Homo sapiens: one gene and its partners. The main gene of each other region encodes a partner of the protein of the gene in region 3 in a complex. Each region holds a gene or a part of one and is shown on either strand. Other genes may lie near its edges. The genes, in order: MED20, MED7, MED31 and MED16. A codon is read from its position in the direction of its gene.

Region 1 (7,989 bases), on a different chromosome or scaffold from region 3:
ATCCTAAGGCCTTTAGATGAATTAACTCTCCAAATCCTCACGATAGTCCTATGAAGGTGTGTTATTTATCAACTTGTTACAAATGAGGAAACTGCCGGGCATGGTGGCTCACGCCTGTAATCCCAGCACTTTGGGAGGCCGAGGTGGGCGGATCACTTGAGGTCAGGAGTTCGAGACCAGCCTAGCCAACATGGTGAAACCCTGTCTCTACCAAAAATACAAAACTTAGCCAGGCATGGTGGTGTGCGCCTGTAATCCCAGCTACATGGGAGGCTGAGGCAGGAGAATCACTTGAAACCAGGAGGCGGAGGTTGCAGTGAGCCAAGATCGCACCACTGCCCTCCAGCCTGGACAACAAGAGCGAAACTCCATCTCAAAAAGAAAAAAAAAAAGACGAAACTTGGCCAGGCACGGTGGCTCACGCCTGTAATCCCAGCACTTTGGGAGGCCAAGGCGGGCAGATCACGAGGTCAGGAGATCAAGACCATCCTGGCTAACACGGTGAAACCCCGTCTCTACCAAAAATACAAAAAAATGGCCGGGCGCGGTGGCTCACGCCTGTAATCCCAGCACTTTGGGAGGCCGAGGCGGGTGGATCATGAGGTCAGGAGATCGAGACCATCCTGGCTAACAAGGTGAAACCCCGTCTCTACTAAAAATACAAAAAATTAGCCGGGCGCGGTGGCGGGCGCCTGTAGTCCCAGCTACTCGGGAGGCTGAGGCAGGAGAATGGCGTGAACCCGGGAAGCGGAGCTTGCAGTGAGCCGAGATTGCGCCACTGCAGTCCGCAGTCCGGCCTGGGCGACAGAGCGAGACTCCGTCTCAAAAAAAAAAAAAAAATACAAAAAAATTAGCCAGGCATGGTGGTGGGCGCCTGTAGTCCCAGCTACTCGGGAGGCTGAGGCAGGAGAATGGCATGAACCCGGGAGGCGGAGCTTGCAGTGAGCCGAGATCACGCCACTGCACTCCAGCCTGGGCAACAGAGTGAGACTCTGCCTCAAAAAAAAAAAAAAAAAAAAAAAAGAGGAAACTTAAGTACAGCACAAAGAGGTTAAATAACTTGCACTAGGTCACACAGTTAATGGGTGGTACACTCAAGACTCAAAGCCCAGCAACCTGGCTTGATGTCCATGCTCTTAACCACTAACTAGACTGCCTGTATAAGGATGTAGTGCCTGTTAAAACATTAAGGAAAATCGATTAAAAAATTAATAAACAATAGTACAAGCAGTACTTAGCTATATAGAAATCAAGAAAACAGTCATAGATGACATTGCTTTATGATCAACTAAATGAATCTATTAAGGTAGAGTCCTTCTGTTGCTAAAAATTGTCACTACTCTATCAGAAAAAAACACTGATAAACGATGTTGCTAATGTGCCTTATTTTGAAATACAAAAGAATCCCTAAACTGACGCTACAAGTGACAGAAGTCCTAGGATTCTGAAAACGTTGATAAGGGGGCCAACAGAGAGCCCTTTCCCTGGAGCTGCCTTCTCCATTTAAAGAGCAGGGGTGGCTGGGCACGGTGGCTCATGTCTATAATGCCAATACTTTGGGAGACCAAAGCAGGAGGCTCGCTTGAGTTCAGGAATTCAAGACCTGCATGTACAAAACAGCAAGACCCCATTTCTATTTCTTTAAAAAAAAGAAAGAGCAAGGGTTCCAGGGTTCTACGCTGCATCCTTTCCATTTCCATTCCTCACATATCTTGCTTCCATTAAGGAACACAGGAGGATCGTGTCAATCGTAGGAAGCAAGAGTGCAATCACTGAGAAACCTGCAAGAACCTGGGCTACCAGGAGGAAAAGTATTTCCCCTACACATGCTTTTGTATGAGAAGCCTATATCCACTGGCTTCAAATATCCTGGCCTCCGGATTTCTCCCACGGGAAAAATGCTCACATCTACTGAGATAAGAAAAAAATGTTCTGGGACCTGGCACCTTACAACTAACGCCTCCACGAGCACTGGACCCATACCTTTCCCTGCCACCTCATCTTCTTTCAACTGAGACTTAAAACATATGAAAGATAAAAACTCCATTGAAACTAGACCAACCATGGAATTAAACATAGTGGGAAACGGGTCCTAAAGAGATAAAGTGCCTGGAACCATGATCTCCTTATTATCAATACCCTTTTTTCCTCTAGACCCAAGATCTTAAAATGAGCAAATTAGAAACAGACACAAGCGGGTCTAACTGTATTTGATGGCTGAGGGAAGAGCAGGCGAAAATCTTAAAAAATACTATCTCCTGATTGCTTATGGCCCACTCCCTCCAACCCTGTCTGCAGGTGGGTCATAGTCCAAAGACCCTATTTCCAACCCTGAGGTCCCACTGCAGGCAGTACTATGGCCTCACGGGAAGGAAGATGTATCCAGAAGAGAATGAGGTATACAACCATTGATAGGTTCCTGGGATAAAAAGTTTGCTTTGTCGACACCAGCGTGGCCAATATGGTGAAACCCCATTTCTACTAAAAATACAAAAAGTAACCGGGCGTGGTGGCGGGCGCCTGTAGTCCCAGCTACTCGGGACTACAGGAGAATCGCTTGAACCCAAGAGGCGGAGTGTTGCAGTGAGCCAAGATCGCTCCACTGCACTCCAGTCTGGCGACAGAGCGAGACCCCGTCTTAAAAAAAACAAAACAAAACAAAAAAAAAACCTTTGCTTTCCCGCCTTCCAAGAGGAAGGGGCGCATCTCTGAGGAAACAAGCCCGGGGAACCCGCAGCCCGGACGGCATCCTCTCATCTACACAACCCGAGGACATCTCCCTCAGCTCCCAGAGGACGGCGGACCATGGTCAAGGTCCTCTTTCCGGCCTTTCACAACTCCAAGCCCCGCCCCACAAAACCCCCTGCAGTCCTACCAAGTCACTCCCATGGCGTCGGGCCAGGAAGGTGGCAGAATCACACAGTAGAAACGCAGGGTTCCCTGTCCGCCCACAGAAACTCCTTCAGTTCCCCAACACAACCTTCTGTCTCAGAAGGGACTCCGGAAATACGTAAAAACAGAGCGCCGGGTCCACGCCTTCCCCAAGGAATGGGGCGTGTCTCGGCACCCCTCGGTGACGCCTCCACTGACATCATCTGCGGATTCCCGCCCCGAGGTTTCTAAATCCAGACATTCCCGTTTGGCTGAGCACTCTAGGCCTACATCCATGAAGCTAGGAGAGCGACACTCAAAGACTGCACTATTGAGAGAAGCTAACGTTAAAGGCAGTGAATATATTCGGGAGTCCAGCTCCGGAACCCGGGAGCTCTTTTAGTGGGAGGGGCGGCGCTGATGGCGCTTCTGGCCTCCGAATGCTAGGGGGCGCTGTGATCGCCGGGCGGCCTCTTGGGCGCTGGGAGTCCACCGCGCAAGCGCATCCTGGCCTTTCTTCAGTCCCCACGTGCGATCCTTCCCGGCAACTTTTTCGAGAAAAATGCCCAAATTCAAGGCGGCCCGTGGGGTGGGGGGTCAGGAAAAACATGCGCCCCTGGCCGATCAGATCCTGGCTGGGAATGCGGTGCGGGCGGGGGTCCGGGAGAAGCGGCGGGGTCGCGGGACAGGAGAAGCGGAGGAAGAGTATGTGGGGCCCCGGCTGAGCCGACGGATTTTGCAGCAAGCACGGCAGCAACAGGAGGAACTCGAGGCCGAGCATGGGACTGGGGACAAGCCCGCGGCGCCGCGGGAACGCACCACGCGGCTGGGTGAGTGTCTGGGATGAGGTCCGAGGAAGACAGTGGCCAGTAGTGGGGCGGGGTGGGCAGCTAAAAAGTGTCTGGCAGGGGAATTGCTTCGAGTCAACAAAGGGGTCCGTATTACACTTGCAAAGGAGACTGAACCCTGTCTAGAGCCCTCCGCGTCCACTCCTAGTTTTAGGCACTCCCTTCTAGACACCCCCGAAGTTAGGCCAACAGTAATCGATCGCGCCACTAAGTGCTCCTAGCATGTATCCATTGGTTTTGTAAATATTTATGGGATACCCACTACGAGCTTTGCGCTATGCTCGGAATTCTATCGAATGTTTGGGTACAGAAGTAAACAACACAGGCACGTCTAACTTAAGGACCTTACAGTCAAGCCCAGCAGAGAGGCAATTAAGTAGACTCTTAGAATAATATATTTCCATGATAAAGTATCGTTTCCCTGGTAACAATAGCATTGGTCTTGAGAAGCTTCTCCGATTGCAGCAGGACCTTTAAGCTGAGAACTGAAAAACGAATGGGAAGTGTTATGAGCAGAAAACACATTGTTTAGCAGCCAAAGAGCGAGAGAGATGAATTGAAAGACGTCTGATGTTTTCTCACTAGGGAGGGAGTGTTGACCTCTGAGGTGCTTCATCCGTTTCTCAGATCTCATCTAAAGCAATATTTGACACAATTGAATAGTGGCCTTCTGGCCACAGTATCCTTACTTGGGTTCTAAGACATCAACACTCCTGTTTTACTGCCACCTCACTTCTCAGTATCCTTGGCTGACTCTTATTGCAACCTCTTCTCCTCAGTCCTCTGACCTCTTCAAATATTCTCTGGTGCTGGCAAGTTTCATGGTTTAAATACCATCCTTGAGTGACTACTCCTAACTTTATAGTCTAGCCCTGATCTCTTCCATGAAATCCAGATTCTTATATTCAACTGCCTATTTGGCATCTCCAATTTGAAATCTAACAGACAGCTCAAATTTAACATGTACAAAACAGAAATCCTGACCTTCCCTCCAAACCTGCTTCTCTCACCATTGCCTTCCCTGTCTCAGTTAGTAGCATATTCTTTCATTTGCTCGAGATAAACTTTAGACTCCTCTCTCTCCCTGCCCCCACCATCTCCTCTCTCTGTCTCTCCCTCCCCACATCTGATCTGTAAGGAAATTCTGATGACTTTGCCTTCAAAGTGTATCCAAAATGAGACCACTTTTCACCGCTTTGGAACACCATCCTGTCGTAGCCACCACAGTCTCTCACCTGGATTATCACAGTAGCCTCCTCGTTAGTATCTCATATTCTCCGTTTTTTCTTTTTTTCTTTTTTTTTTGAGACAGAGTCTCTCTCTCTCTCTGTCACCCAGGATAGAGTGCGGTGGCACAATCATAGCTAACTGCAGCCTCAATCTCCTGGGCTCCAGTCGTCTTTCCACCTCAGCCTCCCACGTAGCTGGGACCACAGGTGTGTGCCACCATGTCCAACTAATTCTTTTTTTTTTTTTTTGAGCCTGTCGCCCAGGCTGTAGTGCAGTGGCGCAATCTTGGCTCACTGCAACCTCTGCCACCTAGGTCCAAGCAATTCTTCTGCCTCAGCCTTCTGAGTAGCTGAGATTACAGGCGTGAGCCATCACATCCAGTTAATTTTTGTATTTTCAGTAGAGATGGGGTTTCACCATGTTGGCCAGACTGGTCTTGAACTCCTGACTTCAGGTCATCGTCCACCTCTGCCTCCCAAAATGCTGGGATTACAGGCGTGAGCCACCGCACCTGGCCGCTAATTATTTAATTATTTGTAGAGATGAGGTCTCACAGTGGTGCCCAGTTTGGTCTCAAACTCCTGGGCTCAAACGACCCTCCCTGCCTTGGCCTCCCAAAGTGCTGGGATTACAGGTGTGAGCTACTGCACCCTGCCGTGTCTCATACTCTCTACAAAGTACTCACAGGTGGGGGATTACAATGGTCTACAATGCACTATATGATCTGCCTCCTTTGCCAGTCTGACCTCTTCTACTGCTTTCCTCTTTGCCCATTCCACTCCACCTATTTAGGCTTCATTGTGCCTTAAACGTGGGAAATTAGGGGGTTTGGCCTGGTTGTTCCTTCTCTCTGGGATAGTTTGTTCTCATACACTTGTAGGGTTACTTTCTCAGAGAGGCCTATCCACTCCATTTAAGATTGCAGCACTCTACTCCATCTCCATACTCCCAGCATTTCTGCCCTATCTTTTTTTCATAGTACTTATCTTTTTTTTTTTTTTGAGACAGAGTCTCGCTCCGTCACCCAGGCTGAGTGCAATACCACGATCTCGGCTCACTGCAACCTCCACCTCCCGGGTTCAAGCGATTCTCCTGCCTCAGCCTCCCAAGTAGCTGGGATTACAGGCGCCCGCCACCACACCCAGCTAATTTTTTTTTTTTTTGTATTTTTAGTAGAGTTGGGGATTTCGCTATGTTGGCCAGCCTGGTCTCAAACTCCTGACCTCAGGTGATCCACCCGCCTCGGCCTCCCGAAGTGCTGGGATTACAGGCATGAGCCACTGCACCCAGCCCATAGTACTTATCTTTTAACCCAATATATTTATATGTTTATTTATGTCTGTCTCTTCCATTTAGACAGGATTGGGTGCGTTCAGGGTGGTATGGTCGTAGACTATCTCCTCCAATTAGAATGTAAGCTGTATAGAACAAAGTCTTTTGGTTTCGGTTGTTCGTGGATATATTGCCAGCACCCCGAACAGTGCCTCACATATAGTAGGTGCTTGGTGTTTGCTGAATGACTGGGTTAATCGGTAATGAATGATGGTCAGGTAGGTGGGAGCCAAGCCTACAAAAGATTTTAAAACCATCCTAACAGCAGTGGGAAGAATGGGAAGCTACTGGAGAATTTTAAGGACAGGGCTGATCAAATCAAATATGTGTTTCTGGAAGGTGACCGTCTGCAGAGTGGAAAATGAGTTGGAGGGAAGCAAGGTCAGAAACATAGAGACCAGTGGGCGACTGTTGAATAAATCCAGGCAAGAGATGATGCTGATCTAGGCTTAGATGGGGCTGTGAAGCATGTGAGAGACAGTCTATGAGGTAAAATTGAATATGATTTAGTAATTGATTGGGTGTTGAGGGTGAGGGCAGGGGATGAGGCAAGAGTACCTCCCAGGCTTAGCATTGGGTGGACGATGGTGCCGTTTACTGAGCTGTGGATGGTTAGCAGTGTAGACCTAGGAGGGAAAGAAAATTAGTTTAGTTGATAACGGGTGAGATTTGAGGTGCCTGTGAGTCATCCAAGAGCAGCTTACAGGAGACACCTGGAGTTAGGGTCTGGCACTAAGGAGAACCACCTACAAAGTACAAATTTGGGGGACCGTTGGAACGTGGAGACAAAATGTCTGTTCCCCCTTATTTAGTGTTTATCACACACTGCCTTTGTTGTTAATGACCTATTGATACGTAGCATTATAGCTCCCCACTTGGATTATTAGACCCCTTTCCAGATGCCCAGACATGTAGCCTTCCAAAAACAGAAGTTATTTAAATGGACTAACTTCATTTTTTTTTTTTTTTTTAAGACGGAGTCTCGCTCTGTCGCCCAGGCTGGAGTGCAGTGGCACGATCTTGGCTCACTGCAAGCTCCGCCTCCCGGGTTCACACCATTCTCCTGCCTCAGCCTCCCGAGTAGCTGGGACTACAGGCGCCCGCCACCACACCCGGCTAATTTTTTGTATTTTTAGTAGAGACGGGGTTTCACCGTGTTAGCCAGGATGGTCTCGGTCTCCTGACCTCGTGATCCGCCCGCCTTGGCCTCTCTAAGTGCTGGGATTACAGGCGTGAGCCACCGCGCCCGGCCTATTTATTTTTATTTATTTATTTATTTATTTTTTTGAGACAGAGTTTTGCTGTTGTTGCCCAGGCTGGAGTGCAGTGGCGCGATCTCGGCTCACCTCACCTCAACCTCCACCTCCCGGGTTCAAGCGATTCTCATGCCTCAGCCTTCCCAAGTAGCTGGGATTATAGGCATGCGCCACCAAGCCCGGCTAATTTTGTATTTTTAGTAGAGACGGGGCTTCTCCCTGTTAGTCAGGCTGGTCTCGAACTCCCAATCTCATGATCCACCCGCCTTGGTCTCCCAAAATGGTGGGATTACAGGCGTGAGCCACCACGCCCAGCCAACTTCATGTATTTAAATGGACTGGTGGATTGAAATCTGAACTCTACTGCCTGAATTTAAAGGCCCTCCAGTCTGGCTTCACCTTTCCCACGTACCTAGCATTATTTCTTGCTATTGCCTAGGAGACTCTTATAT
Region 2 (2,971 bases), on a different chromosome or scaffold from region 3:
TCCCTATGCTAGAAACCAGGGGCTAAGGAAGAAATAAAAAAGTAGACATCTGGGGAAAGGCATTGCCTCTCAATGGTTCTTTTTTGTTTTTGAGATGGAGTTTCGCTCTTGTTGCCTAGGCTGGAGTGCAATGGTGCAATCTCAGCTCACCACAACCTCTGCCTCCCAGATTCAAGTGATTCTCCCTGCCTCAGCCTCCCGAGTAGCTGGGATTACAGGCATGCGCCACCAAGCCCAGCTAATTTTGTATTTTAGTAGAGATGGGATTTCCCCATGTTGGTCAGGCTGGTCTCGAACTCCTGACTTCAGGTGATCCACCAGCCTCAGCCTCCCGAAGTGCTGGGATTACAGGAGTGGGCCACTGCACCCAGCCTCAATGTTTCTTAATCTTGAGCATGTATCATAATCACATAGGCTTCTTAAAATACAGCTTGCTGGGACCTACACCCAGAAGTTTCTGGTTCAAAAGGTCTGGGATGGAGCCAGAGAACCCTCATTTATTTTTTATTTTTCTGAACCTACGGATTATACTAAAACTTTTATTTCTAGTAAGTCCCCAAGTGATACCAATGCTGCTGGTCCAGGACCACACACTTTAAGAACCACGGGCCTACATTAAGAAAACGGCAGGCAGAGATCCTCAGACACAAGGTCAACTCTCCACTAACACCTTGGTGGAAGAGCAGATGGACAGTCGGGGGAAGAAGAGAAGAAAGTGCTCATATAAAGTCCAATTAGCTAGGGGCAGAGTGGAGTTACTGAAAGGAAGACTTAGTCCTCACGGTCATTCAAAGAACCAGACTGACAATCTTTGCCATCTTCGGTGGCTTCCAAACTTATCCTGGATACGACCGTCCAACCAGCAGCTGGGAGAAGAGAATGGAGGATCATGCAAGAAATGTTTATGGGGCAAGCCTGGATTCCTATGCCCACATTTCACCGCCTACGACTTAGTCATATGTTCTCACAGAGATGCTGGGAGTAGGGAAATGTCCCTGGCTGGATTGCCACATCTTGACAACATATCTTCAAAGAGCAAGAATCTTTGGTAGACACCTAGCAGTCTCTGCCATCAAACCCCTTTCCCATTGTGGACTTAAACAAGTCTGAGCTTAGCTTTAAAGAAAATGTATAGCTAATGACACAGACATCTTAATTACTAAAATTAATGTCTGTAACTTAAAGTGACCAAAGGACTTATTACCTGAGTGACTGGAAAAAAAAACAACAATTTATGGGACTTCCCTGCAAGAGTCCATTCAGGATAGGGAGAAAAGACTGAGCTAGTGGGTTTACAGAAGCAGTCATGAGGAAAAAATGAAGTTTCTATTTTATAACTCTACTGGGCTCCTCTCTATCAACATGTTATGCTACTTTTTGGAGCTTAAGCAAAATTTTTAATGGAATAAGTCTAAAGATTTCATAGTTTTACATGTAGAGAGCTTAATATCCATTTATCTATCATTCTTAAAGCAAATGCTAAATCCCCTTTTCAAAGACGAAAACTTTGCTATTATTGAGGTTATCATCAAAGTTTTACTGCAACTCTAAAACATAGGAATGTCCCATACAACAGCAGCTAACACTTTGCTTTTTAAAGTGATTCTTCTTAGTGCAGGGACACTCATTTGTCTATGCTTGTTATACAGCGAAATTACTGCCTATGACATCTCATAATTGAAAAATTTGGAGTCAAGATTAAAGCTGTTTACATTTTTAGTGAAACTTCTCTTAAGACTGTCCAAAAGAAAATGAACTAATATATGATGCTATTATCAAAAGGAAAAAAAGAAAAAGAAACATCTTTCATGGTCTTTCATTCATCTCATCAATTAGGACACACAAGGCAGCATCTTTCTCTATAATCTGATCTCTCCTATGACCTGAATTTTCTCTTTGATGTTCATTCTGTCCAGTACAATTGTTGCTATCATCAGCATCCATTGGTTCAGTTTTTACTCTCATTCCTGCTTCTGAATGAGGCAAATCATCAGGCAAAGAAGCCAAGCAATTCTGAATCATTTCAATTACTCGTTCCAGGTGCTTTTGAAATCTCTCAGCTGTTTCAAGCCGTTGACGTTTCTGGACCTCCATCATGACTCTCAAGGTCTCTCTTGCTTGGTGGGGTCGGTATTCATTTATAAGATGATGCACGTGTACAAAAAGCAGCTTAAGATCTTCTAGTTTCTCTTCTCGTTTTATACTCCCAGGGCTCCTTATTAAAATATCTAAAAGGTCCAAGAAATTAATAAGGATAGACATATTAAGTTTTCTCAGTTCTTTCTTGTGATCAAACTGCATAGGATGAAGCCGTTCGATGCCCTGACTTTCCAAAGGGCGGATGATAAGATCATCACATTGGAACTGATTGCCAAACATCATGTAACTGTCTTTTATTGGAGGGGGAGGCTTGGGAGCTAAGCCTTCTTGAATATTTTCATCCGTATATTCCTTGATATATTGCATTGGAGGTGGTGGAAGTGCACTCACTTGCTGTGGTTCACCCATTGTGGACTATCAAGAACCTATGGACACAGACCAAAGATTTATTAGAGCCACAAGACAAACCTGTTACATTTCATAACTACAGATGGAATATTTTCTTCCTTTTCTTCCAGCAGTTTGGGGCCGAAGACAAGATGATCTCCTTGGTTTCTAAAACTAACATTTATGATAGGGAAAGTCTGCCATCTTTTCTAAGTAGGCATTATATTCTCAACCATTCACATATTTTCCATTCTCTCTCTAATAATTTCATCAGCATTAAAAAATATGTAGCATCCTCTCATCTCTAAAGAAAATCTTCTGGACTCCATGCCCCTCACCACTTATGCCCCATTTCTTTACTCTTCCATAACCAAACTACACAGGCTGTCTCCCAATCTCATATCACAATCACTTTTGTTTTATGTTATAGATTTATTTCCAATAGCAAACACTTACTTGTATCTCTCATAAACACTCTGACAAA
Region 3 (7,817 bases):
AGTATTAAAAAAACTAAAATCTTCTGCAGACTGAATAAAACACCCAAAAGGGGCTAATTTGCAGTCTCTCTTGAATGTAAATATCTGGAAGGCTGTTGTCCTCAAGAGGGTATAGAATGGTTCTAGCTTCATCCAGGGACAAACAGACTGGGGCTACAAGGAGGTACATTATATCACAATATAAGGAAGAACTTTCTAATATCTGGCTAACAATCGAATCAGCTGTCCCTGACAGAGTAACACGGGCTCAATGGAAACCTCCAGAGTGTAGATGACCATCTCTCGGCAACGTTGTGGGTAAGATTAAACTTGTTGGTGGCTAAGGCTTCCAACACTGAGTCTGTAAATCTACATACATACAATATTCGTTGAAGTCTACTTTTCTTAAAAGTCTGTTCTTTGGATTATTAAATGGATAAAAAGCCAGAAAAGGTGCAAACGGTCCTGCAGGCAACATAAGACGTATGTGCTTCGTGAGTCAATTGTTATTGGACACAGAAAAGTGACTTTGAGAGAAGTTTGAAACATTTTCCTCTCAAACTTTTTTTTTTTTTTAAAGGTTCATTATTGCTTTCTACCTGCTTAAGACAAAGCAGGGGTGTGAGTTCAAGGTGGGTTGGTTTTTTTTGTTTTTTTTGTTTTTTTTTTTTAACCATTAAAAGGGAATTGCTTTGTGGTTATAATATGTTTCTTGCAACTTAGTAAGCCTTAACATGAAAGTGTCTGCTGAACGACCTGAATGGTAAATATATATATATAAATGAGTTAATGCATATGAAGCATTTAGCACTGTTCCTGGCAAATAAGAGGCCTTAAATAAAAGACAGCAACTCTAAGACTCAGGTAAGATCACCTCCTTCAAATAACCCCAGAAACACCTTCCTTACAGATACCCTCTTTTAATTTCAGCCCATGGCTTATGCTACTACATTTACAGATTGTGAGTTCTTAGGGACCAGAAACCTGGTGAGATGGGAAGGGTGGTAAAAGACAAGGTCAGAAAAGGCAGGGCCAGATCGTATAAGGCTTTAGTCCAAGAAAAAAGACTGGATTTTATTCTGCATGGAATGGAAAGCCATTGAAAGGTTCTAAGCAAGAAAGTAAAGTGTTCTGATTTATATTTTTAAAAGATTAAGCTGGTTTCTGTGTAGAAAGCTGTTTTGCTTGGTTTGGGTTGGGGTGGAGATGGGGGCAGGAAGGTAAAAGTGGAAGCACAGATAACCAGGGAGTAGATTACTGCAGTGTTACAAGTTAGAGATGAGGGTGTCTTGTATTAAGACGGTGATAACAAAAAGAAGTGGAGAGATTCCAAATACATTTTTGCCAATGTGAAACTAAGAAATCTATTATATAATAAAGTATACACATGCTTAGGATTATAAAAATTAAACTTACTTTAGATACTTGGCATATTCTGGGTCTTTCCAGTAAAGCAAGTATTTAAGATAATTAACAAAAGCTTTGTCTTTGAAGTAACCTCTTTGGGCAAGAACTGAAAAGCATTAAAAAAAAAAATCTGTAGGTCAAACCAATCCTTAAACTGTGATTTGTTACCCCTAATATAAAGGATCTATTTACATAACACCCCCACCACCAACACACATTGGATTCAAAACACAAGTCCCAGTACGCAATTATATCTATATACCAGCATAAGTGTAATGTCATTCAACTGAGAATGTGTAAAAGTAGATACTATTTTGAACTGCAACTCTTCTGTCAGAAATCATTAATAGCTACTCAATTTAATGAGGTGCTTAACAACTTACAATTAAGGTAATTTGGGTTGGCTAAACATTGCACAAATTCCAACTCCAACTGAAACCGAAGTCGATTTCCAGCATCATCTAGGAGACAAGACAGCAAAAATCATGGAAAACAAAGGTCACTGTATATAATACTGATTTGTAGTAAGGAAAGAGCAATAAAGAAACCTGACTAATGTTGAGATGGTCTTCCTAAACTAGGAGTGGGAGGAGATAAACCTTCCTTCGAAATCTAAGAAAAGCGGAGCCCTGATTAAAAGGAGTAAGTTAGAAGTTTCTCTAAAGTTAAAGAGAAATCATCAAAGAAAACAGCAACACAAACGGAGAATTCCTACCACTCGTGGGCCACTATGTAGGAATTTTAACAGTGATCACTAAGGTAGGCTGTAATAACTGTGGCTTCCCCTATTTTAATAATGCGTTGTAACAACTGTTAACAGTGATTAAGTTTCGCAAACGCTAGGGGCTGAATCAGTAAAGAAAAACTTAGGATGCAAGAGACTGCGGAGAGCCTAAAAGATCATGCAGCGCATGCATATAAGAAGCACCAGGGTCAGGAGATCGAGACCATCCTGGCTAACACAGTGAAACCCCGTCTCTACTAAAAATACAAAAAAAATTAGCCGGGAGCGGTGGCGGGCTCCTGTAGTCCCAGCTACTTGAGAGGCTGAGGCAGGAGAATGGCGTGAACCCAGGAGGCGGAGCTTGCAGTGAGCCGAGATCGCGCCACTGCACCCCAGCCTGGGCGACAGAGCCAGACGCTGTCTCAAAAAAAAAAAAAAAAAGAAGCACCAGTAGCAGAATGATACACAAGTCTGGCGACGATATTTCAAACTTAGGCAAGCTCATGTGAGAAGCAGAAAACCAATCAAGGAGGACACGGTTTAACACACAAGTCCTCTCCCTTAGTCTCACCCACGCCAGGGAGCTGGTGGGGTGGTGTCTGAATAGCAAAGATGTGCGAACAAACCAAATCAGGAAAACTGCAAAGAGTACCTTAGTCTTTCTAGACGCTACAAGAGCCTTCTCTCCTCTCTGTCCAAATATTAACCCTGCCAAGAGTAAGGCCTGGAAGGAGGCCACGGGGAAGAGGTCTGGGTCAAGGAGAGTTCCATCTGCGAAGACTCCAAGATCAGAGAGCTACTCACCTGTCTCCATAGCGACAGCAGCGGCCATAACAAACGAAGACACCAAAACGCCACCAGCCTGACAGAGCAAAAGCCCAGAGACGCGGGCGAAGTTCCGGAAACCACGGCTCCCTCTTCCGGTCCCGGGGCACTGTGGGATATGGGGCGGGGCGGCTCCGCCCATCCCCGACCAGCCCTGGGATGGCTCCACCCGCGCTGGCTCCAAAATAGCGAGGGGGCGGGGCCCGGGCCGTGGGAGCGCCTGAGGGGCAGGAGTCCAGTGTTTTAGCCTTCGAAGGACCATGGTGCTTCCACGTCATCGTGTTGTGGCGCTCCCGGCTATGGCAGTACCGTAGTTTTCCTCTCTTCTGCCTGCGGTGACCATTGGGCTGTAGGGTGCCCCGAGGCCTCCCTGGCCCCCTCACGCCGGCAGAATGGCCTCAGCCCGAGGGGCCAAGCAGTCTTCGCCCCGGGTGGGGACCACCCGCTACACAGAGACGTCCACGGTCCGCGTGGAGACCTCGTCCCACCGCGTGGAGACGTCGTCCCGGCGGGTGGAGACCTCCCAGCGCCGCAGCGAGGGGCCCTCCCTCTCCCCCTCGGGGAAGCGGCTCCCTCGCATCCTCGAGGCGTCCTCCCGGCACGTGGAATCCTCCTCGCAGCGCACGGAAACGACCTCCCGCCACGTCAGAGCCTCGTCCCTGAGGGTGGAGACGTCTCTGCACTGCGCGGAGAGCCCGACCCCGCGGGCCAAGCCGGCCGCCCGCCAGAACGAAAAAACGGCCCGATGAGATGCTGCTTCCCAAAGGCCACCAAGGGGCCAGGGCCCTCAGCCAGGACAGAAAGGCCTCCAGTTGCCAGCCAGCCAGCCAGCTGCCAGGTGGACCAATCATTTTCGGTTTCATGGAAACAAACCATAAATCAATGTAAGAAACAGCCAAGCCGCAGTTTCTGAACACAGCCAACGTTTACTGACCGTCCTGCGTCTTGGACCAGCCTACTTTTGACCCAGTGAACTATTTTCACTTGAAGCCAGCACAGAAGGTTTTCAGGCCCAGGATGCTGTCTAAATCGGGTTGATGGACAAAGAGAGGCTGTTTGAGCCTCTGAGCCAGGTGAGTTTGGGATCCACAGCCCTCAGAAAACCTTCACCCCTTAGGAACAGAGACCAAACTGAAATAATGACCTGTGGAATGATTCCATGCCTGCTAAAAACTCGAGGGACAAGGAACAGACTCATAAATTATTAATTGGCCTTTGTTTATGTTTCAAAGTAAATGGTCGTTTTCTTTATGCTAAGTCTTTGTACCTGGCACCCCCATCCATACACTTTTTTAAGGTAGGTTAGATGTGGTTAAAAATGACAGTAAACCCACCAGCAAGCAAAAATAATCTTAGAAAGTGAGAGGAGGTCACTGAAACCTGGCCTGAGGTTTGAAGAAGATGGAGAAGAGTTATATTTATTGAGAACCGGCTCTGTGCCAGGCACTAGATGTTCCTCCACTTACGATGGGGTTACCTCCCGTTGAAACTATTGTAAGTTGAAAATATGGTAATTTGAAAATGCACTTAATACCCCTAACCTACTAAACATCATGGCTTAGCCTAGCCTACCTTAAACATGCTCAGAACACCTAAAGTTGAGCAAAATCATCTAACAGAAAGCCTGTTTTATAATAAAATGTTGAATATCTCATGTAATTTATTGCATACTGTACTAAAAGTGAAAAAGAATGGTTGTAAGAGTACTTAAAGTACTATTTCTACTGAATGTCACTTTTGTACCATTGTAAAGTCGAAAAATCATAAGTCAAACCATCTTAAGTTGGGAACTGTCTGTATTCTGGGAACTTGGGCTATAGCAGTAAAAAAGGCAAAGTCCCAGCTCTAGTGGAGCTTACACTCTGGTGAAAAGGCAGACAAGCAATGATGAAACAAGACAATTTTCTATTGTGATTAGCACTATGAAGGAAATACATGGGTAATGTGATAGAGAATGGAAGTAAGTGGCTTCTTTTGATAAAATGGTCAGGGAAGGCCTTGCTGATTAGTTAACATGTAATCTGAGATATGTGTGAATGAACAGTGATCTGGAACAGGTGCATTCTAGGCAGAAGAACAGCAAATACAAAGGGTGGATGGGAACCAGCTTTGAATGTTCAAGGAACAGAAAGAAGGCCAGTGTGGCTGGAGTGAGAGAGAAGCAATTATATAGACATGGAAGCAGAACGGAAGAGAGGAGTTAAAAGCAAGCAGGGGCCAGTCCACAGAAGGTCTTCTAAGCCACAGTAAGGAATTTGAGATTATTCTAAGGTCAACAGGAAAACATTGAAGGGTTTCCAACAGGGGAACGACATGATGCCATTTACATTTAAAAAATATCCTTTTGGCTTCTGTGTGTAGAATGTGGGACAGTGGTTCTCAACTAAGTGTGATTTTGTCCCCCAGAGGATATATGGCAACCTCTAGAGACATTTTAGTTTGGTTGAAAAGTTGTTGGGAGGGGGTGGGTGGCACATTAGGTGCTACTGGCACCTAGCGGGTAGAGTCCGGGGATGCCACCTGACATCCTACAGTGCACAGGTCAACACCCTCCCCTCTGCCAACGATGAAGAATCACTGGTCCCAAAATGTCAATAGTGCCAAGGCTGAGAAACACTGACAGTTCTAGCAGCTTGGAAAGCTAGAGCATGGTCTACTGGGACAGCGCACCACTTTAAGGAACAGTCATGGAAGAGGGTTACCTTTAAAAGTAAAGAGAAATCATCAAAGAAAACAGCAACACAAATGAGACACAATACCTACCACTCATGGGCCACTATGTAGGAATTTTAACAGTGATCTCTAAGGTAGGCTGTAATAACTGTGGCTTCCCCTATTTTAATAATGCATTGTAACAATTGTTAACAGTGATTAAGTTTCGCAAAAGCACGTGCTGAATCAGTTAAGAAAAACTTAGGATGCAAGCTGAACAAGAGACTCCAGAGAGCCTAAAAGATGATGGAACATATGCATATATAAGAATCACAAGTAACACAATGATACACAGGTCTGGCGACGATATTTCAAACGTATGCAAGCTCATGTGAGAAGCAGAAAACCAATCAAGGACACGCTTTAAGACACAAGGAGGACACGCTTTAAGACACAAGTCCTCTCCCTTAGTCTCGCCCACGCTGGGAAGCTGGTGGGGTCGTGTTTGAATAGCAAAGGTGTGCGAACAAACCAAATTAGGAAAACTGCAGAGTACCTTAGCCTTTCTAGACGCTGCAAGAGCCTTCTCTCCTCCCTGTCCAAATACTAATCCTGCCGGGAGTGAGGCCTGGAAGGAGGCCCAGGGGAAGCGGGAGAAGAGGTCTGGGCCAAGGAGAGTTCTATCTGCGAAGACTCCAGGCTCAGAGCGCTACTCACCTGTCTCCAGGGCGACGGCAGCGGCCATAACAGGCAAAGACAGCGAATCGCCACCTGCCTAACAGAGGAAAAGCCCGGAGGGGCGGGAGGAGTTCCGGAAACCACGGCTCCCTCTTGCGGTCCCGGGGCACCGAGGAATATGGGGACGGTGGCTCCGCTCATCCCCGGCCAGGCCCGCTTAGCCCGCGCTGGCTCCGGAATGGCGAGGGGGCGGTGCCGGGCTGTGGGAGCGCCTGAGGGGCAGGAGTCCAGGGAGGCAGACTTTTACCCTCAAAAGGAATGAGTCCCAGAGCCTGGCACAAGGAAGACAAGTGTGCAAAGTTGGTGGAATGAATTCGGTGGCCTAAATGTACCTTCCTCAAATGCCACGGCTGACTGGGTCTCCTCGCCCACTTCACCCTCTCTTGCAATCCAACTTGTGAGGCGTGTGTGTGTGTGTGCATGTCCGCGCTTGCCTTTAGATGGAGGTTGGCTTCCCAGCCATCCAGGCTTGCATACACGTGCATAACTCCTACCCCTACCTCGCCTGCCTGCTGTACCAGGGGTTGATTCCTTCTTCCTGCGTGTTTTCTGTCCAAATCCTTTTCTGATTTGGACAGAAAACACGCAGGTGGCACACAGTAAGCGCTTAATAAATTTTCCGGCTACCTGATCTTCTTGGAATTGAGGGCATGCTCCTGTGCGCCCCTCATTGCACAGAGCTCCCTTGTCTGGAAACTCAGCAGTCACCGGAGCCGCCGTCGGTCCTCTCGCTTTCTCTATTTTAAAAAACGTTTCAACCGCTAGCGCTGTTGGATCTCTACCTTTCAGGCTTTATCACCTGGGGTGGAGTGGGTGGTGAGAGGGAAGGGATGGGGAGTCAAGACAGGAGAACGCTCTCGATTTCCCGACCCACCTCCCGTCATATCTCATGTCATATCTACCGGGTGTTCTACCCGGTCCTGTTACTTTTTTTCTTCCGCGAAAGCCCAAATTCCCATCACTGCTCTAGCTCTCTCCCAGATCGCCAAATCCGGATGTCTGTCTCAGGGAACGTCAAAGCAACATGCCCGGATGAGGTCCTCCCCTCTCCCCACCTCCCAGCCCTCTCCTCCTGCCTCCCCCGGTGTCACCCGCGCCTCCTTCCTCTCTTCACCTCCCTCTAAACAAGAATCCGGCGCAGTCAGTTCTAGACCCTGAGCATCTCCCGCGTCCCTGCCCAATATCCGTCCCGCCCCCGATCGCCCGCGTCCTCTTGAACCTGCGGAGCCCTGCTCCCCGCACTCCACGCCCTTGCTCCGAGCTTCCGAGAAAGCGGGGCAAAGGGAGCCAGAAAGAGAGAAAATGCGCACGGAGCAGGTGGCCCCGCGACTCCATGGTGAGGGGACGGGGCACGGAAGGTGGAAAGGCGCGCTCCCTCCTCCCTTTTTTCCTCCCTATGGTGGGCAGTTGGTGACACACAGTAAACGCTCAATAAATGTTTCCGCTACTCGATCTCCTTGGAATTAAGGGGATGCTCCTGAGCGCCCCTCAT
Region 4 (7,029 bases), on a different chromosome or scaffold from region 3:
TTCACCCACTGCCCCACATCCCCACTTAGCAGCTTAGCTTCTCCCTGCCTCAAGTCCCCCCTCATTTAGGAATGCTGACCGCAGCCGTCAGTTGGATGGAGGAGGGGATGTAAATCGTGCTGTGAGGGTACCCTGGCCACTAGCTGGGGGTGTGGTCGTCATGGCAGCTGCCTCCCCCGGCGCTGGGGCGTTGAGTTTCCTGTCTTTCCTATGAGAGGCTCAATTCCATGAGGGCCAGCCACCCCTGACCACTGTGTGCCCTCTGGGCGTCTCAGCCACTCTCTGGGCCTGTTTCCCCCCAGGGAATGCTGCTCACAGGACCCCTATACGGGTTTGCAGGAGGTCAAGGCTCTGTGACCGTGATGGCCCGTCCGGGGCAGAGACCTCATGATGCGGGTGGCACAGAGCAGCTGCGTGGTAGTCAGCTTCAGCCGAGTAACAAGCCAGCCCCAAACTGAGCAGCTCAGGCCAGCAGCCCTGCACTGTTTCTGTTTCTGTGGCTGCCTCAGCTGCGCTCTCCTGGTTCCCACGTGTCTGCGGTTAGCAGCCGAGGTGGCGTGGCCTGTCCACTGGCCGCACATGCTCCAGCAGGCCGGCTCCAGCTGCCCTCCGTGTCCCACATGCAGCCACAGCAGGACCCCCCACACGTGCTCTCTGGGCCACTGTTTTTGTTTTTTGTTTTTGAGCTAGGCTCTTGCTGTGTTGCCCAGGCTGGAGTGCAGTGGCGTGATCTTGGCTCACTGCAGCCTCATCTTCCTGGGCTCGAGCAATCCTACCTCAGCCTCCTGAGTAGCTGGGACTACAGGCGTGTGCAGGCGTGCATCACCACCACACACAGCTAATGTTTACTGTGTTTTTTTTGTAGAGAATGGGGTCTTGCTGTGTTGTCCAGGCTGGTCTTGAACTCCTGGACTCAAGCCATCCTCTGGCGTTGGCTTCCCAAAGTCTTGGGGTGGCAGATGTGAGCTGCTGTGCCCGGCCATGTCACATTTGCTAAGGCTTGGCCTGAGATTCCCAGAAGTCTCTGCCCTGTTGGGAGGAGCTGCGTCTTCACGCAGGGGCTGTCAGGCAGCGGATCTGTGGGTGCGACCATCCCGCATGGCTTTATTGGAATTGTAGATGAGGAGGGATGGGAATCCCGGCTGAGCTGGCTAAGGCCGAGCGAGTGTTAGGGTTTGCATGGCTGCAGGTCTGAGGTGGCGCCGTCTCCCCACTGTCTGCCCCATCGGGGGTGAGATGGTGCCGGCCCACAGGTTTCCATGAAATCCCAGGGCCCACCTTGGGTCACGTGCCCATCCTGGAACCAATGAGTGGCCGAGGCACGAAGCGCTCGGATTGGCCGGGCCTGGTCTTCTGGGCATGGGAGCAGGGCGGCATGAGACCTGGGAAGGGCCCTGGGCAGGTTGCACACCAGGCCATGCTGGACTCCTGCGGCTGTCTCAGCCTGTCTTTACTCCATTGCCTTCCTGTTTTCCTGCCCCTGATTTTTCAGTTGGCGACAAACAGCCCACAATTCTCAAATGGCGGATCCTATCGGCCACCAACGATCTGGACCGTGTGTCGGCCGTGGCGCTGCCCAAGCTGCCCATCTCGCTCACCAACACCGACCTCAAGGTGGCCAGCGACACACAGTTCTACCCTGGCCTCGGTACGGTGGAGCCAGCGGCAGCCACGCGGGGCCTCAGTTCACACCAGGGGAGTTGGGCCCTGAGCACAGGCCACGGGGTCGTGGGAGCTCACACCAGAGGACGTGGGCTCTGAGCACAGGCCATGGGGCTGTAGGAGCTCAGCCTTCTGGGTTCTGATGGGTTCCCAATTAGGAGGCAGATCTCATCTTTCGGGATCTGTGAGGCTGGCAGACAGATCCAGTGTTCTTTAATATGTAAAGAGTCATTGCAAATCAACAAGGGAGCCTGGGGAACTTGGTGGAACTCCTTCCTGGGTAGGCGGCATGTGTCCTCTCTGTGCTGCAGCAGCCATAATGTGGTCCTGAGCTCAAACCGTGGCATCCGTGCCCATGAGTGAGTCTGCACACTCTTCAGTGCCTACCCTATTTGCTCAGCTGTAAAATGTGGACAAGTCGGCCCTAGCTCAGGCCCTTTCTTCCCCCAGCTCCCGTTCTTCCCTGGTTCCCTGGAAAGAGCATTTATCAAAACCCGCTCGGGGCTCAGGGCTGTTCCTCAGAGCCTGCAGAGAGGTTGAGGGGATGCAGTTCCCTGCTCCAAAACCCTTGGTTTATGCTCCATTTTCCAGGCTCTATTTTTTTTTTTCTTTTTTTTTTTGAGTTGGAGTCTCATTCTGTTGCCCAGGCTGGAGTGCAGTGGTGTGATCTCGGCTCACTGCAACCTCCGCCTCCTGGGTTCAAGCGATTCTCCTTCCTGCCTCAGCCTCCCGAGTAGCTGGGACTACAGGCGCGTGCTGCCACGCCCGGCTAATTTTTTGTATTTTAGTAGAGACGGGGTTTCACCGGTGTTGCCCAGGCTGGTCTCGAACCCCTGAGCTCAGGCAATCTGCCCGCCTCAGCCTCCCAAAGTGCTAGGATTACAGGCGTGAGCCACCGCGCCCGGCTTTGCAGCCTCTCTACTGCAGGGACTCCTTTCATATTCTCTTTTCCATGAGCTTTGGGCTCTGGACCCCACCTCCCCCCGGCCCTCGTACAATGGCAGACCCCAGTGTGAGTGACAGCCCCAGCCCACCACCCTAAGATGCCTCTCTTTGGGACGCCAGGAGCCCCAACCCTTGGTCCCCCACCTGTAGTGCCCCCCTCCCCTGCGCTCCTTGAGGGGCGTGTCAGCCAGGACATGGGCCCAGCTGGGAGGGGCGGGGAGGGGCTGGGAGCAGTGTGGCCAAGGCTGCTGGCTCCTGCTCCCCTGGTGCTCAGGGACTGTGTAACTAAAGAAAGAGTGGCTGGGGGCACGGGCGCTGGATGCCGATTGGCGGGGGCTGACCCCCTGGATGGGCAGCCCCGGCTCTCCACACCCTGCAGAGCAGGAGGCCCCTCCCCCGGCGGGCGTGTCCTGGGCCCTGCCCATGTCTAAGCAGTGCCTGTGCCCCACAGGGCTGGCCCTGGCCTTCCACGACGGCAGCGTCCACATCGTGCACCGGCTCTCACTGCAGACCATGGCCGTCTTCTACAGCTCCGCGGCCCCGAGGCCTGTGGATGAGCCGGCCATGAAGCGCCCCCGCACCGCGGGCCCCGCCGTCCACTTAAAGGCTATGCAGCTATCGTGGACGTCACTGGCCCTGGTGGGGATTGACAGCCACGGGAAGGTGAGCTGCTGGGGCACGTGGGGCCGGGGCTGGTGGGCATTGACAACCAGGGGAAGGCGAGCTGCTGGGCATTGACAACCAGGGGAAGGTGAGCTGCTGGGGCACGTGGGGCTGGCCCTGGTGGGGATTGACAGCCAGGGGAAGGCGAGCTGCTGGGGCACGTGGGGCTGGGGCTGGTGGGCATTGACAACCAGGGGAAGGCGAGCTGCTGGGCATTGACAACCAGGGGAAGGCGAGCTGCTGGGGCACGTGGGGCTGGGGCTGGTGGGCATTGACAACCAGGGGAACGTGAGCTGCTGGGGCACGTGGGGCTGGGCTTGGGGGGCATTGACAACCACGGGAAGGTGAGCTGCTGGGCATTGACAACCAGGGGAAGGCGAGCTGCTGGGGCGTGGCCCTGGTAGGCATTGACAACCAGGGAAAGGCGAGCTGCTGGGGCACGTGGGGCTGGGGCTGGTGGGCATTGACAACCAGGGGAAGGCGAGCTGCTGGGGCACGTGGGGCTGGGGTTGGTGGGCATTGACAACCAGGGAAAGGTGAGCTGCTGGGGCATGTGCGGCTGGGGCTGGTGGGCATTGACAACCAGGGGAAGGTGAGCTGCTGGGGCACGTGGGGCTGGGCTTGGTGGGCATTGACAACCATGGGAAGGTGAGCTGCTGGGCATTGACAACCAGAGGAAGGCGAGCTGCTGGGGCATGTGGGGCTCGGCTTGGTGGGCATTGACAACCATGGGAAGGTGAGCTGCTGGGCATTGACAACCAGGGGAAGGCGAGCTGCTGGGGCACGTGGGGCTGGGGCTGGGGCTGGGGCTGGGGGGTATTGACAACCAGGGGAAGGCGAGCTGCTGGGGCACGTGGGGCTGGGGCTGGGGCTGGTGGGCATTGACAACCGGGGGAAGGTGAGCTGCTGGGACATGTGGGGCTGGGGCTGGGGCTGGTGGGCATTGATAGCCAGGGGAAGGTGAGCTGCTGGGGCACGTGGAGCTGCGGCCGGGGCCGGGGCCGGGGCCGGGGCCGGGGCTGGTGGACATTGACAACCAGGGAAAGGTGAGCTGCTGGGGCACGTGGGGCTGGGGCTGGGGCTGGGGCTGGTGGGCATTGACAACCAGGGGAAGGGGAGCTGCTGGGGCACGTGGGGCTGGGGCTGGTGGGCATTGACAACCAGGGGAAGGGGAGCTGCTGGGGCACGTGGGGCTGGCCCTGGTGGGGATTGACAACCAGGGGAAGGCGAGCTGCTGGGGCACGTGGGGTTGGGGCTGTTGGGCATTGACAACCAGGGGAAGGTGAGCTGCTGGGGCACGTGGGGCTGGGGTTGTGGCTGGTGGGCGTTGACAACCACGGGAAGGTGAGCTGCTGGGGCATGTGGGGCTGGGGCTGGGGCTGGTGGGCATTGACAACCACGGGAAGGTGAGCTGCTGGGGCACGTGGGGCTGGGGCTGGTGGGCATTGACAGCCAGGGGAAGGTGAGCTGCTGGGGCACGTGGGGCCGGGGCCGGGGCCGGGGCTGGGGCTGGTGGACATTGACAACCAGGGAAAGGTGAGCTGCTGGGGCACGTGGGGCTGGGGCTGGGGCTGGGGCTGGTGGGCATTGACAACCACGGGAAGGTGAGCTGCTGGGGCACGTGGGGCTGGGGCTGGTGGGCATTGACAACCAGGGGAAGGCGAGCTGCTGGGGCCCGTGGGGCTGGGGCTGGGGCTGGGGCTGGTGGGCATTGACAACCAGGGGAAGGTGAGCTGCTGGGGCACGTGGGGCTGGGCTCGGTGGGCATTGACAACCACGGGAAGGTGAGCTGCTGAGCATTGACAACCAGGGGAAGGTGAGTTGCTGGGGCACGTGGCGCTGGGGCTGGGGCTGGGGGGCATTGACAGCCAGGGGAAGGCGAGCTGCTGGGGCACGTGGGGCTGGGGCTGGGGCTGGTGGGCGTTGACAACCACGGAAAGGTGAGCTGCTGGGGCACGTGGGGCTGGGGCTGGGGCTGGGGCTGGTGGGCATTGACAACCACGGGAAGGTGAGCTGCTGGGGCACGTGGGGCTGGGGCTGGTGGGCATTGACAACCAGGGGAAGGCGAGCTGCTGGGGCATGTGGGGCTGGGCTTGGTGGGCATTGACAACCACGGGAAGGCGAGCTGCTGGGGCACGTGGGGCTGGGGCTGGGGCTGGGGCTGGGGCTGGTGGGCATTGACAACCAGGGGAAGGTGAGCTGCTGGGGCACGTGGGGCAGGGGCTGGTGGGCATTGACAACCAGGGGAAGGCGAGCTGCTGGGGCACGTGGGTCTGGGGCTGGGGCTGGGGCTGGGAGGGTGCCAGAGGGAGGCGCCCCCGGGGGAAGGGACCACAGGTGCAAGCCCCTCGCCAGCCCCTGCCTGCGCTGCCTTGTCTGTGTGATGGGTTCGTCTTGTTGAGCGAGGTCAGTGGGGTGGCTCACAGCACGTATTAGGAGCTTCGTAACTAGGAGCTGTTGAGAGGACCGCCTTTCACGGGGTAGACTCCTCAGGTAAAGCAGACGAGTGTAAGCCTGGCTCGGCATCCAGTGCAGTCGGGGCTCAGGGAGGTTTCCTTCCCTGTTCCCAGAGGCATTGTGCATGACCCTGACAGAAAGGTACAGACGCTACAGACACATGCGCGCACACAGGCCCACACACGGGCGTGCGCGCACACAGATCCACACACGTGCCGCAGCCCCAGGGCCCCATTCCTCTCCCGGCTGAGGGCGCAGCCCCATCTCACCGGGCTCTCCTTGGGCTCTGTCTCTGGCAGCTGAGCGTGCTCCGCCTCTCACCTTCCATGGGCCACCCGCTGGAGGTGGGGCTGGCGCTGCGGCACCTGCTCTTCCTGCTGGAGTACTGCATGGTGACCGGCTACGACTGGTGGGACATCCTGCTGCACGTGCAGCCCAGTATGGTACAGAGCCTGGTGGAGAAGCTGCACGAGGAGTACACGCGCCAGACCGCTGCCCTGCAGCAGGTGGGGGCCCGTGGCAGGTGGGGCCCCGTGGCAGGTGGGGGCCCTGTGGCAGGTGGGGGCCCCGTGGCAGGTGGGGCCCCGTGGCAGGTGGGGGCCCCGTGGCAGGTGGTCCCGTGCCAGGTGGGGCTGTCCCTGTGGCAGGCAGGGGCCCCGTGGTCAGTAAAGTGCCAGCAGCAGGGAGGGAGTTCCCTTGGAGGGTGGAGGAGGTCTCTGCAGCAGTTGTAGAGGTCCCCACGGCAGATGTGGGGGTTGTGGCAGCTGGAGGGGTTTCCCTGCGGCAGGTTGGGGGCTCTATGGCAGGCGGAGGGCAAGAGGGGCAGGTAGCCTGTGGCAGGTGAGGCTGCGTGTGGGGTGTGCTCCCAGAGGCCCGTCCAGGAAAGCTGCACCTCAGAGAAGCAGTTTCCTTCCTTACCTGGGAAGTTTCTTCTGTAACACGTTAAGCCCCACAGGTAAGGCCTGATCCCCCCTGGACGGCTCCCCTCTCCAGTGTTCCCAGTCTGGAGGTATCTTTCTAAGCCATCCTCTCAGAATGTGATGGGTACCAGGATGCACACCCGGTGGCCCTGTGGTGTGAGGCCTCAGCAAACACGGTCAGAAGATGAACACACAGAGACCCGCCCGTCGGAAGGAGAGGAGGGAGCGGATACGGAGGCCCACGTGCCAGAAGGGTCCCTTGCAGTGGTGTGGTTATGTGCCTGCAATCCCAGAGTGTCCTCGAAGGACCTCAGATCTAACGAGCTCAGCCGGCAGCTGCACGTGGGACCAGCCCTCTGAGCTTCACTTGTTTTCCTCTGTG

What was found.
Region 1: MED31 (region 3) and MED20 share a complex: the UniProt entries of both Homo sapiens proteins name them as parts of the mediator complex.
Region 2: the proteins of MED31 (region 3) and MED7 are in contact, whole or in part, in a cryo-EM structure (PDB 7EMF), measured with the Homo sapiens proteins. Residues at the interface, in NP_057144.1 of Homo sapiens: Asn14 (codon at 1,836), Arg15 (codon at 1,833), Leu16 (codon at 1,830), Arg17 (codon at 1,827), Phe18 (codon at 1,824), Gln19 (codon at 1,821), Leu20 (codon at 1,818), Glu21 (codon at 1,815), Leu22 (codon at 1,812), Glu23 (codon at 1,809), Phe24 (codon at 1,806), Gln26 (codon at 1,800), Tyr33 (codon at 1,779), Phe36 (codon at 1,770), Leu37 (codon at 1,490), Tyr42 (codon at 1,475), Asp45 (codon at 1,466), Ala47 (codon at 1,460), Phe48 (codon at 1,457), Asn50 (codon at 1,451), Tyr51 (codon at 1,448), Tyr54 (codon at 1,439), Tyr57 (codon at 1,430), Glu62 (codon at 1,415), Tyr63 (codon at 1,412), Lys65 (codon at 1,406), Tyr66 (codon at 1,403), Lys68, Tyr69; in NP_001094286.1 of Homo sapiens: Met15, Gln16, Tyr17, Ile18, Lys19, Tyr21, Thr22, Asn25, Ile26, Lys33, Pro34, Pro35, Pro36, Pro37, Ile38, Lys39, Asp40, Tyr42, Met43, Met44, Phe45, Gly46, Gln48, Gln50, Asp52.
Region 4: MED31 (region 3) and MED16 share a complex: the UniProt entries of both Homo sapiens proteins name them as parts of the mediator complex.

Annotation. Positions count from the first base shown.
Region 1 is NC_000006.12:41,918,130-41,926,118, forward strand, and holds the start of MED20 (mediator of RNA polymerase II transcription subunit 20), read right to left. Parts: upstream 3,011-7,989; 5' UTR 2,890-3,010; coding exon 2,876-2,889; intron 2,815-2,875; exon of another isoform or gene 2,671-2,814; intron 1-2,670. Other genes in the region: BYSL (bystin), read left to right, coding at 3,434-3,701. UniProt on the Homo sapiens protein: Component of the Mediator complex, a coactivator involved in the regulated transcription of nearly all RNA polymerase II-dependent genes.
Region 2 is NC_000005.10:157,136,924-157,139,894, forward strand, and holds the end of MED7 (mediator of RNA polymerase II transcription subunit 7), read right to left. Parts: intron 2,526-2,971; 5' UTR 2,509-2,525; coding exon 1,807-2,508; 3' UTR 501-1,806; downstream 1-500. UniProt on the Homo sapiens protein: Component of the Mediator complex, a coactivator involved in the regulated transcription of nearly all RNA polymerase II-dependent genes.
Region 3 is NC_000017.11:6,648,587-6,656,403, forward strand, and holds the start of MED31 (mediator of RNA polymerase II transcription subunit 31), read right to left. Parts: upstream 3,020-7,817; 5' UTR 2,943-3,019; coding exon 2,915-2,942; intron 1,848-2,914; coding exon 1,770-1,847; intron 1,493-1,769; coding exon 1,396-1,492; intron 1-1,395. Other genes in the region: uncharacterized protein C17orf100, read left to right, coding at 3,328-3,684. UniProt on the Homo sapiens protein: Component of the Mediator complex, a coactivator involved in the regulated transcription of nearly all RNA polymerase II-dependent genes.
Region 4 is NC_000019.10:876,178-883,206, reverse strand, and holds part of MED16 (mediator of RNA polymerase II transcription subunit 16), read left to right. Parts: intron 1-1,492; coding exon 1,493-1,648; intron 1,649-3,058; coding exon 3,059-3,270; intron 3,271-6,026; coding exon 6,027-6,233; intron 6,234-7,029. UniProt on the Homo sapiens protein: Component of the Mediator complex, a coactivator involved in the regulated transcription of nearly all RNA polymerase II-dependent genes.